Regions from separate parts of the Homo sapiens genome. Here all the other regions are reported to be linked to region 4. Evidence: microRNA targets listed by miRTarBase, many of them from high-throughput screens and not tested one by one. Region 4 holds a microRNA gene; each other region holds the end of a gene's coding sequence. Distances are from middle to middle.
The links. Region 4 holds the annotated microRNA hsa-miR-181c-5p (AACAUUCAACCUGUCGGUGAGU, at 1,134-1,155, shown strand). A microRNA usually pairs through its seed, bases 2 to 8, with sites in the 3' UTR of a target mRNA and lowers its output. Matches are read on the target gene's strand: a 7mer-m8 pairs with bases 2 to 8, a 7mer-A1 pairs with bases 2 to 7 and ends in A, and an 8mer does both.

Region 1 (3,128 bases), not on the chromosome of region 4:
GCTGCTTGTATGTCTTCATTTGAGAAACGTCTGTTCATCATGTCCTTTGCCCATTTTTAATGGGGTTGTTTTTTTTTTTTTGCTTGTTAAGTTCCCTATAGATTCTGGATATTAAACTTTTGTCAGATGCATTGTTTGCAAATATTTTCTTCCATTCTGTAGATTGTTTTTGCTACTGATAATTTCTTTTGCTGTGCAGAAGCTCTTTAGTTTAATTAGATCCCACTTGTCAATTTTTGTTTCTGTTGCAATTGCTTTTGGGGACTTGGCCAAAAATTCTTTGCCAAGGCCAATGTTGAGAAGGGTATTTCCTAGGGTTGCTTCTAGGATTTTTATAGTTTGAAGTCTTACATTTAAGTCTTTAATCCATCTTGAGTTAATGTTTGCATATGGAGAAAAGTAAGGGTCCAGTTTCAGTCTTCTGCATATGGCTAGCCAGTTATCCCAGCACCATTAATTGAATAGAGAGTTCTTTCCTCATTGCTTTCTTTTGTTGCTTTGCCCATTTTCTAACTGTTGTGTTTTTCTTTTGTTTACTGATTTGCAAGAGCTTTGTAAATTAAGCATATTAAATTTTGTGTGTTGTATAGTTTGCAAATATTTTTCAAGTTTGTCTTTTCATTTTGAAGAAAATATAATCTAGAATAAGTACATTTTTGGGGTAAAAATTATGGCAATAATTTTTTATATACAAAATTTAGAGGCAAAATGAAAAAATTAGCATTGATTCTACATTTTAAACACAAGGGATTCATGTTTTCTTTCATCCTTTTTTATTTAAAAAACTTCAAAAGAAAATGAAGGGAAATATATATTAAATATCTAATTACTTGGACATATATAATGTATTAATGCATTCTTCTACTGATAGACATTCAGGTTGTTTTCAGTTTGGAGCTTTTTACAAATATCACTGTAGTAATTATCTACATACAGTTTAAACAATTCTTCATATCTTAATAAGTTTTAAAAGGTTTCTCCCACTCTTCCCTCCTGTGTTCCCAAGTACTTTTCTATTATTATCAGAATATGAGGCCCGGCACGGTGGCTAATCCCAACACTTTGGGAGGCCGAGGTGGGCAGATCACTTGAGGTCAGGAGTTAGACACCAGCCTGGCCAACAGGGAGAAACCCCATCTCTACCAAAAATACAAAAAGCAGCCGGGCGTGGTGGCACACACCTGTAATCCCAGCTACTTGGGTTCTGAGGCAGAAGAATCACTTGAACCTGGGAGGTGGAGGTTGCAGTGAGCCGAGATCACTCCACTGCACTCCAACCTGGGCAACAGAGTGAGACTCCATCTCAAAAAAAAAATATATATATATGTATATATGAGTTTGTGATTTCCACAAAATGAATCACTTTATTAATATATTTGGACAGAGTGCCCTGTAAAAGGCATAAGGCATTGCTTGAAGGCAATTTTGCTTATCTAGGGAAGTATATAAAAAATGCATTTCAAAGTTCCTTAGCATATTAATGGTCCTGATAAGTATTGCACGAAATACTAGGTTCCATGATAGGCACAAAAAAGAAAGGATCCAACAGTTAAATAAAATTTAAGGGACCACTACAACCTCCTTTTGGTGAGCCACAAAACTCAATAGTGTAGTAAAACCCCTGAGAATTCCTACACTAAAGCCAACTTTCTAATTTTGCTTATATAGGGTTTTATAAATTTATTTACCAGATAATTTTTCTTCCCTTTAACATCTGTTACCATGCCAAAGTAGTAGTGTTTCCCCTAGGAAAATACTAAAATAAAATAGACAGATTAGCACCACAGATAACCCAAATCTAGATATTACTATCATATAAGTTGTCTTACCTAAACATCAAACATTTCATCAGGGCTTTGGATAAGGAAACAGACTTGGTTCTCTCCTTTTTTAATCTTTGATAATAAATAAAGACACATCACAAATAACTCAGATTTTGAAATGTAGTGCCATGGTGGAAATAGCATGCTTTGAGGTCAGATAGACCTGAGTTACAACCCTAGGTTGGCCACTTACTACATATGCAGACTTGGATAAGTGATTTAACCTCTCTGCATATCAGTTTTCTCATAAGTAAAATGGGAATAGTAACATTCATCTTACAGTTGATGTGAGGATTAAATAAGATCATATATATCAAGTACACACCAAAGTGGCTGGCATATACAAAGTTTTATACAATATGTACACTTGTACACAGCAGAATTTCTGTAAGGGAAAGAACTGAAGACCTGGGAACCCACGAACAGATTGTAAGCTTCTGAATAATTGCTAGCTTTTTTCATGAGAATAGGATTAGAAGTTTCATCCGATCAGAGCTATAAGCTCTATGGTATTTCTATTACTAACATTCTTTTAATATTTAATTACACTGGGTTTATACCTGTGAGTGTTGCAAAAAGAAGGTCGTCGAGCTTTTCACCAGGCCAAAGAGAATCCCATGTGTAAAGTTGTCTGCCACTACTTAACAAACTCATAGCATTTTAGGAGGGTTACAGTGTAGGAAGGATGCTTTTTTGCCCTTAGTGGGGAAGACTAGGTTATTAACTGACATAATGGAGTCAGGCAAAAGAAAGCTATTTGTAATCTGTACCATTTCAGAGACCTGGAATGAAACAGGAGGAGGCTTATAATTCACAGTATGAGAGTAAATAACCTTAACGGAATGTTTGGGTGTCTGGATCCCCGGAGTTTTTTTCAGCACAAGTGACATAAGTGTGAGTTTGCAGGGAATAAGGGCATCTTTTTTTTCAGCACACTGCCAAGGGAAATTATGTATAGAACTTCTGCTTATGCATGCATTACAAGAGTGAAGAATTTAAAATCTTTTTCACCCAGGATAAGAACTTATTTCTTTTCTAGTTCTTCTCCCAAGCCGCCTTCTTAGCAGTCCAGGTGCCACTGTATGTGTCTCCCTCAGAATACTGACCTGTCTGAGAGATGCAGGAAATGTGAAAACTGCTATGTTTCCGTTTCCACAGCAAGAGATGATGAGCCTTCTGGATAATCTGCAAGGTTGAAACGTGAAGATGATCAAATGTCCCCGTGCCTTATATGGGTGGGTATTCATTCACTGGCAGTTTTCCTTCTTGTTCAATCTCTGCAGGCAACAGATACCTGCAAACCTC
Region 2 (3,137 bases), 4.3 Mb from region 4:
TACTACACTCCAGCCTGGGCAAAAGGGAGACCATGTCTCAAAAAAAAAAAAAAAAAAAAAACTGGGATAGGCCAAAATCTAGGCCTCTTGTGCCAGTTAGCCAAGTTGTGAATGTAAAGTTCTTGAAGGAAACTAAAAGTGCTACTCCAGTGAACACACACATAATAAGAAAGGAAAACAGCCTCACCACTAACACGGAATAAGTTTTAGTGGTCTGGATAGAAGATCAGACCAGCCACAACATTCCCTTAAGCCAAAACCTAATCCAGAGCAAGGCCCTAACTCTAATTCTATGAAGGCTGAGAGGTGAGTTAGCTGCAGAAGAAATGCTGGAAGCTGGCAAAGATCAGTTCGTGAGGTTTAACAAGTCATTTCCATAACATAAAAGTACAAAGTGAAGTAGCAATTGCTGATGTGGAATCTGCAGCAAGCATTTCCAGAATATCTAGATAAATGGCAGAGGTAGCTCTACTAGAGTTTTAACAGAGACAAAACAGCCTTACTTCAGGAGATGCCATTTAGGACTTTCACAGCTCTAGGTAAGCTAATATCTGACTTCAAAGATTCAAAGGACGGGCTGACTCTTTACTTTGTAGAGACAGCGTCACGCTCTGTTGTGCTGGCTGGTCTTGAACTCTTGACCTCAAGTGATCCTCCAACCTCAGCCTCCCAAAGCACTGGAATTACAGGTGTAAGCCACTTTTCCCAGCCTGGGCTGGCTTTCTTGTTAGAGGTCAATGCAGTTGGTGACTTTAAATGAATGCTAATATTCAATTACCATTCCAAAAATCCAAGAGCCAGTTAAGAATTATGCTACATCTACTCTTCCTGTGGTATCTATTTACATCTATTTACAGCATGGTTTACTGAATATTTTAAGCCCACTGTAAAACATACTGTTCAGAGATTCCTTTCAAAATATTACCACTGATAATGAACCTACTAACCAAGAGCTCTTATGGAGGTATAAACAAGATTGGCGTTTTCATGTCTGCTAACCGCAGCCCATGGATTCTGGAATAATTCTGACTTTCAAGTCTTATTATTTAAGAAATACATTTCATAAGGCTATAGCTGCCACTAATAATGCTTCTTCTGAGGGATCTGGATAAATTAAGTTGCAGACCTTGCAGAAAGGATTCTCCATTCTAGATGCCATTAACAACATTTATGATTCATGGAAGGAGGTCAAAATATCAACATTAAGGCAGGTGTGGTGGTGTGTGCCTGGAGTCTTGGCTACTCAGGAGGCATAGGAAGGAGGATCACTTGAGGCCAGGAGTTCAAGGCTACAGTGTGCTCTCATCGTGCTGGTGAATACCCACTTGTACTCCAGCATGAACAACACAGCGAGACCTTGTCTCTAAAAAAAATTTTTTTAATTAAAAAAATAAAAACCAACATTAACCAGAGTTTGGAAGAAGTTGATTCCAACCTTCATAGGTGACTCTGAGGGGTTCAAGTCTTCAGTGGAAAAAGTAACTGTGGATGTGATGGAAAAAAGAGAACTAGAATTAGAAGTGGAGCCTGAAGATGTGACAGAATTGTTTCAATCTCGTGAAAAAACTTGAACAGATGAGAGGCTGCTTTGTATAGATAAGCAAAGAAAGTGGTTTCCTGAAATGAAATCTACTCCTGAAGATGCTGTGAACATTGTTGAAAAGACAACAGACTTAGAATATTACATCAACTTAGTTGATCAAGCAGTGGCGAAGTTTGAGAGGATTAAGTCCAATTCTAAAAGAAGTTCCACTATGCGTAAAATGTTATCAAACAGCGTCGAATGCTAAAGAGAAGTTTTTCATGTAATGAAGAGTCAATCAATGCAGCAATCTTCACTGCTGTCTTATTTTAAGAAACTGCCACAGCCACCCTGATCAACAGCCATCAACACTGAGGCAAGACCTACCACAAGCAAAAAGATTACAACTCACCAAAGTCTCACATGATCATTAGCACTTTTTGGCAATAAAGTATTTTAAACTAAGGTACTTTACTTAGACATAACACAACTGCACACAAGAGACTACCATATGATGTAAACCTAACTTATATGCACTGGGAAACCAAAACATTTGTATGATTCATGTTATTGTGATATTCACTTTATAGTGGTAGTCTGGAACAAAACTCACAATATCTACAGGGCATGCCTGTATCTTGTATCAATAGGGTTTCTCTTCTCCATTGCAACATCTTATATACTTAGAAAGGCCTAAGGAAATAATGAGGGCTTTCTGTGTTTTCTACATTGTATGGCCCCATGGTGAGTTCTCAAATGTTGGATTGTGACCACAATCCAATCCCTTGAGAAAAGAATGTGTATTAACAACGACTTACAAAAAAAAAAAAAAAAAAAAAAAAAAAAAAAAAAGGCCAGGAGCAGTGGCTCACTCCTATAATCCCAGCACTTTGGGAGGCCAAGGCGGGTGGATCACCTGAGGTCAGGAGCTCGAGACCAGCCTGGCCAACATGGTGAAACCCCATCTCTACTAAAAATACAAAAATTAGCTGGGTGTGGTTGACGGCACCTGTAATCCAAGCTACTTGAAGGCTGAGGCAGAATCGCCTGAACCCAGGAGACAAAGGTTGCAGTGAGCTGGGATCATGCCATTGCACTCCAGCCTGTGTGATGACAACAGCAAAACTCTGTCTCAAATAAAATAAAATAAAATAAAATAAAATAAAATAAAATAAAATAAAATAATAAAAAAAGATTCCATTGGCTCCCTAACATTCCTAAAATTTATAGGGGACACATAGAGTATGAGTTCTTTCATGTCTTCGAAGTGAATGGGGATAACTGAAGGCCTCCTCACATTCTTTGTACCAATAAAATTTCTCTTCAGTGTGAATTCAAATGTGGTAATTATGGTATGAGAAATTCCTAAAAGATTTCCACATTCCTTACATTCAGAGTTTTTCTTCAGTGTGTTTTTAAATGTTTAGTAAGTAAATAAAATCTATTGTAGGCTTTCCCACATTCGTTACATATATAGGGTTTCTCTCCAGTGTGAATTCTAACATGTTTCTGTAGATGTGAAGAAGCACGGAAGGTTTTCCCACATTCCTTACATATATACGGTTTCTCTCCAGTGTGAGTTCTTATATGTTCAATGAGTTGTGAAGATGTAGCA
Region 3 (3,123 bases), not on the chromosome of region 4:
GGAATACACATGCAATTATATAGATTACATAAAAACGACCTCAGTATCCACTTGTCTTAGCTTTTCTAAACCAGACAAAAGTTGGGATTAAATAGAATTTCTCTTTATGCATGTATAAACACACAAAGTGGATACATCTGCATTTTTTCTGTGTCATAAAAGTAACATTCGTACAATACTTTTTGGAATAGTAACTTTAAAATACGACCCTTTTAAAACTGCAGTATCAAATTATTTGCTTCTTCAAAACATAGCCATCACAAATTAACAAAACCTCCCAAGATAACATACAAACACAAAAAAGAAAAAGGAAAGATTAAAAACCGATTCAATACGGCAGAATTAACTCATCGTGCTTTCTGATATGGAGGCAGCTTCCTGGGCCCGGCATCCTCTCCACTCCTTCCCCTCCATCTGTGTGTTTACCCCTCAGAAGCCAGAGCCTCCTGAGATGCTAACACGACTCCCAGATATAATCCCAGTCTCCTCTTTCTTATTACACTGTTTGTTTATTTCCCTCCAGTAATCCACTGAACCAGTCACTGAGAGGTTAATGAAAAAACAACTTTATTCACAGAGGCTGAGAGTTTGGGATAGCAAAATATCCAGTGACAGCCCTTTCGCTACATTTTCAGTGAATCACAGTGAGCCTGGATCTCAGCAATGGCTCCTCCTGGAAGTTCTTCCAATCAAGGCTGGCCTGAAGTTTCCCAGAGTCTTCCCACTGGCCTGGGTAGAACCCAGTCGTGGAAGCCTGGTTCAGCATGGATAGGAGAATGAATTTTCCAAAAGTCACCTCTATGCCTGTGAATTATCCAATTACTCTGCCGGCCTGAAATGTCCTTTCCAACACATTGACCAACAGGCCCTCTGGATTCAAAGTTTGTCATCATTTTTAGACAAGTCCTGGAAACTATTTTAAAAGCGATCTTAAAGACCTCCCTCCCAACCTATTTCCAATAGTGCGTGACTACTTGTGTCTTTATCACATGACATAAAATAAAAGTGACTTAGAGGTTCAGAAAATTGCATTTCAGGGCCTCGAAGATTACCCAGCTAGAGATGGCATAGAGGTCGGTTGCATTTCCCCGGAAGCTGCAAGCTGAACTTGGTTGTGAACATCTCAATGTTCTTAATTAGATTTTCGTTGCAGACCTCTTCTCCCCTCCCCAGACTGCCAGTCACCTCTTTAAGGTTTTGATTTAGTATCAGCCTCCAGGCCTGCCTGGCAGGGCTGGGAGGGAAGAGCGGGCGGCTGCAGGGGGTGCGGGGGCCAGGAGTGTCTGGGAGATTCCTGCCATCAAACCTCAGGTCCTCTGGGGCCCAGAGAGGCCCCTTCCAGCGGACACCAGCACGTCCCCTTATTCTTCCCCCGCATTCATCCCTCTCTCTCTCTGCATCTGCTTTTGGTTGTTTCACCCAACTTTTTAAATTAAATGTAGTCTTTCATTATCTGTTTCTGAAAAATATAGCGACCACCAAGCCTGGATCTTGAAAAAACATGGAAATCAAAACTCTGACATTGTCCAAGGCATATCCCCTTCCCCTCACACCCTTCCTCATGGTATCCCTTGAAATATTTTGATCCCTTAAAAACAAAAGCAAAAGGATAGGACGTCTGCTGTTGTGGCTTACATAGCTGCATGTGTATTGGCTAATGAGCTATCGTAATGCAAGAAGATGTTATATAGAGTGCACTTTCTTAATAAAAATTGTTAATACAAGCGTTTTCAAAGGTCAATGCTTAGAGTCAAGTATTTATGCAAAGAATGAAACATGTTCTTTTTACTACCCAGAAAGAAATTAAGAGAAAAAGTCTCTGTTTAAAATAAAAGTGTTATTGCTCTGGGTGGTTATCAGCTTCTATAGCTGAACATTGGTCATAAATCCTCATCGGGCCCTACATCTCTCAGAAAACCTGAAAACCCGGGGTCACCCCCGGCACCTCCACAACTTCAAGTCAGGAACAAACCCAGCTGTGACCACCCACCACCCAGATGGGCTCAAAACCAAGGCCTGAGCCACACGGCAACAGCGAAGCAGGCGACGGTCATACGGGGGTCCCCGGTCGAAAGGACCTCAACTGCACCTGTAAGGCCTGCCTTGGGTGGTCTGCGGGCCCTTGCATGCCCGGGACTCGCAGGACCTGCGGTGGGCGGCTGAAGACCACACTCCATTAGACAGGTCAAACGTCAAGGAATCTCCCGCGGTGGAGGTCCCTGCAGGGCCCACGTGCGGTGCCCACGACCCCGCGGGGATCTTTTAAGTCTCCGTAGCTGCTCCCAGTTGCTGGGAAAAGTTTGCTTCGGAGAAGGCAGGCGAGCGCGCCCACCTGCGCGCAATGGTTGGTAACACTTCCCTGAACCCACAGGCCGACCCAGGCAAAGATCATTTTAAAATCCTCCGCCGGTGGGAGCTGTGGCCTTTCGCTCAGCGGAGGCTCAGGCTGGGCCGGGAGAAGAACCGTGCCATTGTTTGCTTTACTGGAAGTGGAGTACCGTGTCGGGAACCTGCAGGGGGAAATAAGAGAGGAAGGGGATCCCGAGCTGGTAAAAGCCGCCCTGGACATGCGGGTCGAGCATCAGGGAAGCGTTGAAAGGCGGACGGAGGCTGGAGGAGGCGGCCAGGAGCGAGGCACCCAGACGGCCGCCGGGCCCAGGCTTGGCACCCCCTAGGAGTTCGTCCCCTGAAGGCGGCTTCTGGCCCTGCTTTCCCGCCAGGATGCTGTCTATGCTGAAGCTCTTGGACTTGTCGGAGCTCTTCGGAGAGCTGCGGGAGGCGGGGCGCAGAGGGGACCCCGGGCCGTCCCCTGTGCGCGCTGCCTGGCCGACCGCCACGGCCGCTGCGCCCTGGGCAGCGTCACCAGCGTCCTCGTTCGGGGACGCGGTCCCCGGCCAGTGGAGGGGCGCCGGCGGAGAGGGGCCGTCCAGGAGGGGCGAGGGGCCCGCGGGCGCTGCCTGCAGGCGGGAGATTGCGGGGCCCGAGCCCCCTGCCCCGCTCCCCGCCTCCGGCTGCGCCTCCGCGCTGCGCTGGTGCGTCTCGGCGCGGGGCCTCTTGGCCTCCGGGGCCCCGGGGCCCGGCTTGGGCTTCCTCTTCCGGCGCCGGTAGTTGCCGTTCTCAAAC
Region 4 (3,137 bases):
TCAGCCTCCTAAGTAGCTAAGACTACAGGCTCACTACACCACACCCAGCTAATTTTTTTGTAGGGACAGGTATCTCGCTATGTTGCTCAGGTTGGTCTCCATCTCCTGGGCTCAAAAGATCCTCCCGCCTCAGCCTCCCAAAATACTGAATTACAGGCCTGAGCCGCAGCACCCGGCCATGCCGGGTGCACCTTCCTAGGCCGTCCGCAGACCCAGGTCAGGGGCGAAGGCGCGCTCGCCCATCCCTGGTCGTCACTGCTTGGCTTGCGGGGGGTGGGAGATAGGGGTGCGTACCTGTAGGCCTGGGGGCACCCGGGGCGGGGGGGTGGTCGCCGAACTCTGTGCGATCACTGGAGGAAGGGACTGGGGGTCATTTGAGGGATGAGGAAATGGAGAGGGGGCGCCGCAGCCGGTTTTGAGGCCCAAGGGGCAGCCCCCACGTGGCTGCGCGGACTCCCTCCGGAAGTGCCCGAGTTCAGATGCTGTGTGACCGCGCACGCGGGGCGAGCGGCGCCCTCTCTGAACCTCCTGCCTCTCCCCTGTCTAGTGGGGCCCCAGTGCACTTGTAAAGTGGAGAGACCTGACGACCCCCCACCCCCAAGCGCTCCACTCACGCTGTTGTGATTCCTAAACCATCGTGCCCGGAACTCAGTGAAGCTCCCAGAACGTATTACATTGTATTAAAATGGCTTGTTTATCTCCACGTTGCATCAATGCCCTCGGGGCCAGGATCCTCCGTTGCCAGACTTCCCGGGAACACTTGGAATGCCTCCTCCACCTCGGACTAGCAGTGGCCTTTGGCCTCAGTCTCCCCAGTTGACAAAGGGGGGTAATCTGCACCTCCAGGATCACTTTGTGAATTACTTAAGGAGCGGGCTTGAGGCCAGCACTCCCCTGCACTGCTACATCTCCATCCCCATAGCAAAGGCTACATTTTATTTACTAGCATTTATATTTGCCTTGTGTTTTTCCCAGATCTAGGTGCAAACAGCACCTGAAAAGCGTTTGTTTATTTCATGAGAGAAAAGGGGTTCCTTACTCTCTCCTCCTCTCCCTCTTCATGCTCTCTGGTTCCCTGCCACCTACCCCACCCCCGACTCCAGGTCCCGGAAAATTTGCCAAGGGTTTGGGGGAACATTCAACCTGTCGGTGAGTTTGGGCAGCTCAGGCAAACCATCGACCGTTGAGTGGACCCTGAGGCCTGGAATTGCCATCCTCCTGCCGGTGACTCTGACCTTCCAGATCTAGGGGGGCCTGGGGAGCCCCCAATCCAGCCTGGGCACGTCCCCTCCCCTAGGCCACAGCCGAGGTCACAATCAACATTCATTGTTGTCGGTGGGTTGTGAGGACTGAGGCCAGACCCACCGGGGGATGAATGTCACTGTGGCTGGGCCAGACACGGCTTAAGGGGAATGGGGACTGGGGACAGGACCCCCCACCGCCACAGTCACTCAGCCTGTTTTTTGCCCTGACCCCAACCACTCCTCTTTGGAGAGGAGAGCTGGTGTCTGGAATCTGGATGGGCTCTGGCTGGATTTGGGACTAAATATTAGAGGGTTGGGGGTAAACAGGCTGGGGCAGGGCAGCTAAAATCCCCTTTTTTTTTTTTTTTTAAGACAGAGTCTCACTCTGTTGCCTAGGCTGGAGTGCAGTGGCCCAATCTCAGCTCACTGCAACCTCTGCCTCCAGGGTTTGAGTGATTCTCTGGCCTCAGCCTCCCAAGTAGCTGGGATTACAGGCATCTGCCACCACAGTGGGCTAATTTTTGTATTTTTAGTAGAGACGAGATTTCACTGTGTTGGCCAGGCTGGTCTCAAACTCCTGACCTCAAGTAATCCTCCCCCCTCGGCCTCCCAAAGTGCTGGGATTACAGGCATGAGCCACTTTGCCTGGCCTAAAACCCCTTTCTGAAATGTGGGTGGTAAGTTCTGCTCCGTGGAGTGCTCCATAGTTTTGTTTTTTAAATTAGAGACAGGATCTCGCTCTTGTCACCCAGGCTGGAGTGCAATGGTGTGACCTTAGCTCACTGCAGCCTCTAATAACTGGAGTCAAGCGTTGATCCTCCCGCCTCAGCCTCCCCAGTAGCCGGAACCACGGGCACGCACCACCACACCTAGCTTATTTCGAAAAAGTGTTTTTGTAGGAACAGGGTCTCAAAACGTTGCCCAGGCTGGTCTCCAACTCCTAGGTTCAAGCAATCCTCCTCGGCCTCTCAAAATGAGCCACAGTGCCTGGCCAATAAAAGTTTCTTAAATGAATGGATGGGTGGATGAGCTGTGTAAGCGGCACAGCGTCTCTCCTCTGTGTCCAAGTCCTGAGCACACCCTCCCCTCCTGGGACTGAGCTGAGATCTCATCTCGGGGAGGACACTGAAGACCTGTAGGTACTAGGGGTCCCCTCCTAACAGCCCAACTTGCTATCCCCCACCTCCCAACTCCAGAGGGTTCTTTCTCACCCCTCTGCAGCCCCCGCCAGGAAAGGGCTCCCTCCCCAGCACCTAGCCTCAGGGGGCCCCAGTAACTAGAAGAAGGAGGCAGATGTGGTGCTTTTTGTTGTTGTTGTTTTGAGACAGAGTCTTACTCTGTTTCCCAGGCTGGAGTGCAGTGGCTTGATCTTGGCTCACCGCAACCTCTGCCTCCTGGGTTCAAGCAATTCTTCTGCCTCAGCCTCCTGAGTAGCTGGGATCACAGGCACCCGCCACCATGCCCAGCTAATTTTGTGTGTGTGTGTGTGTGTGTGTGTATTTTTAGTAGAGACAGGGTTTCACCATGTTAGCCAGGCTGGTCTCGAACTCTTGACCTCAGGTGATCCGCCTGTCTTGGCCTCCCAAACTGTTGGGATGACAGGCATGAGCCACCACTCCCTGGCCTGGTGCATGTCTTTATAAATAACTGGATGGGCAGGTGGCTTCACACCTCAGTTTGCTCATCCATTCAATGGGGGTTCCACTAAGACAACCGATGTGAAAACTCTTGGAGGGAGACCAGAGCTGGGGGCCGGGGGGCATGATCCTTCCCCCCTACCCCCGCAACCAGCCCATGAGCCTGGGACTACCACACTCCTTTCAGAGACAGCTGGAGCATCAGCAACCTCCCGCCTGGACACACACACACACAAAGAACCCAGGGGCACCTGGC

Region 1: the mRNA of ZDHHC15 is a reported target of hsa-miR-181c-5p. The part of its 3' UTR that is shown has no 7-base or 8-base seed match.
Region 2: the mRNA of ZNF121 is a reported target of hsa-miR-181c-5p. Seed matches in the 3' UTR shown: 8mer at 2,909-2,916.
Region 3: miRTarBase lists FOXL1 as a target of hsa-miR-181c-5p. The part of its 3' UTR that is shown has no 7-base or 8-base seed match.

What each region holds. Positions count from the first base shown.
Region 1 is chrX:75,376,191-75,379,318 of GRCh38, forward strand. It overlaps ZDHHC15 (zDHHC palmitoyltransferase 15), which reads right to left. Exons shown (of 12, transcript NM_144969.3): 11 at 2,930-3,008. The coding sequence ends at 2,962. Among named protein-coding and RNA genes, the nearest start is that of UPRT, 100 kb to the left of the region's middle.
Region 2 is chr19:9,563,014-9,566,150 of GRCh38, forward strand. It overlaps ZNF121 (zinc finger protein 121), which reads right to left. Exons shown (of 4, transcript NM_001008727.5): 4 at 1-3,137. The coding sequence ends at 2,927. Among named protein-coding and RNA genes, the nearest start is that of ZNF121, 20 kb to the right of the region's middle.
Region 3 is chr16:86,579,119-86,582,241 of GRCh38, reverse strand. It overlaps FOXL1 (forkhead box L1), which reads right to left. Exons shown (of 1, transcript NM_005250.3): 1 at 1-3,123. The coding sequence ends at 2,481. Among named protein-coding and RNA genes, the nearest start is that of FOXL1, 2.1 kb to the right of the region's middle. RefSeq lists an enhancer at 2,212-2,833.
Region 4 is chr19:13,873,592-13,876,728 of GRCh38, forward strand. It overlaps MIR181C (microRNA 181c), which reads left to right and starts at 1,108; the gene lies at 1,108-1,217. MIR181D (microRNA 181d) reads left to right here and starts at 1,284; the gene lies at 1,284-1,420. It also overlaps a transcript of NANOS3 not described here.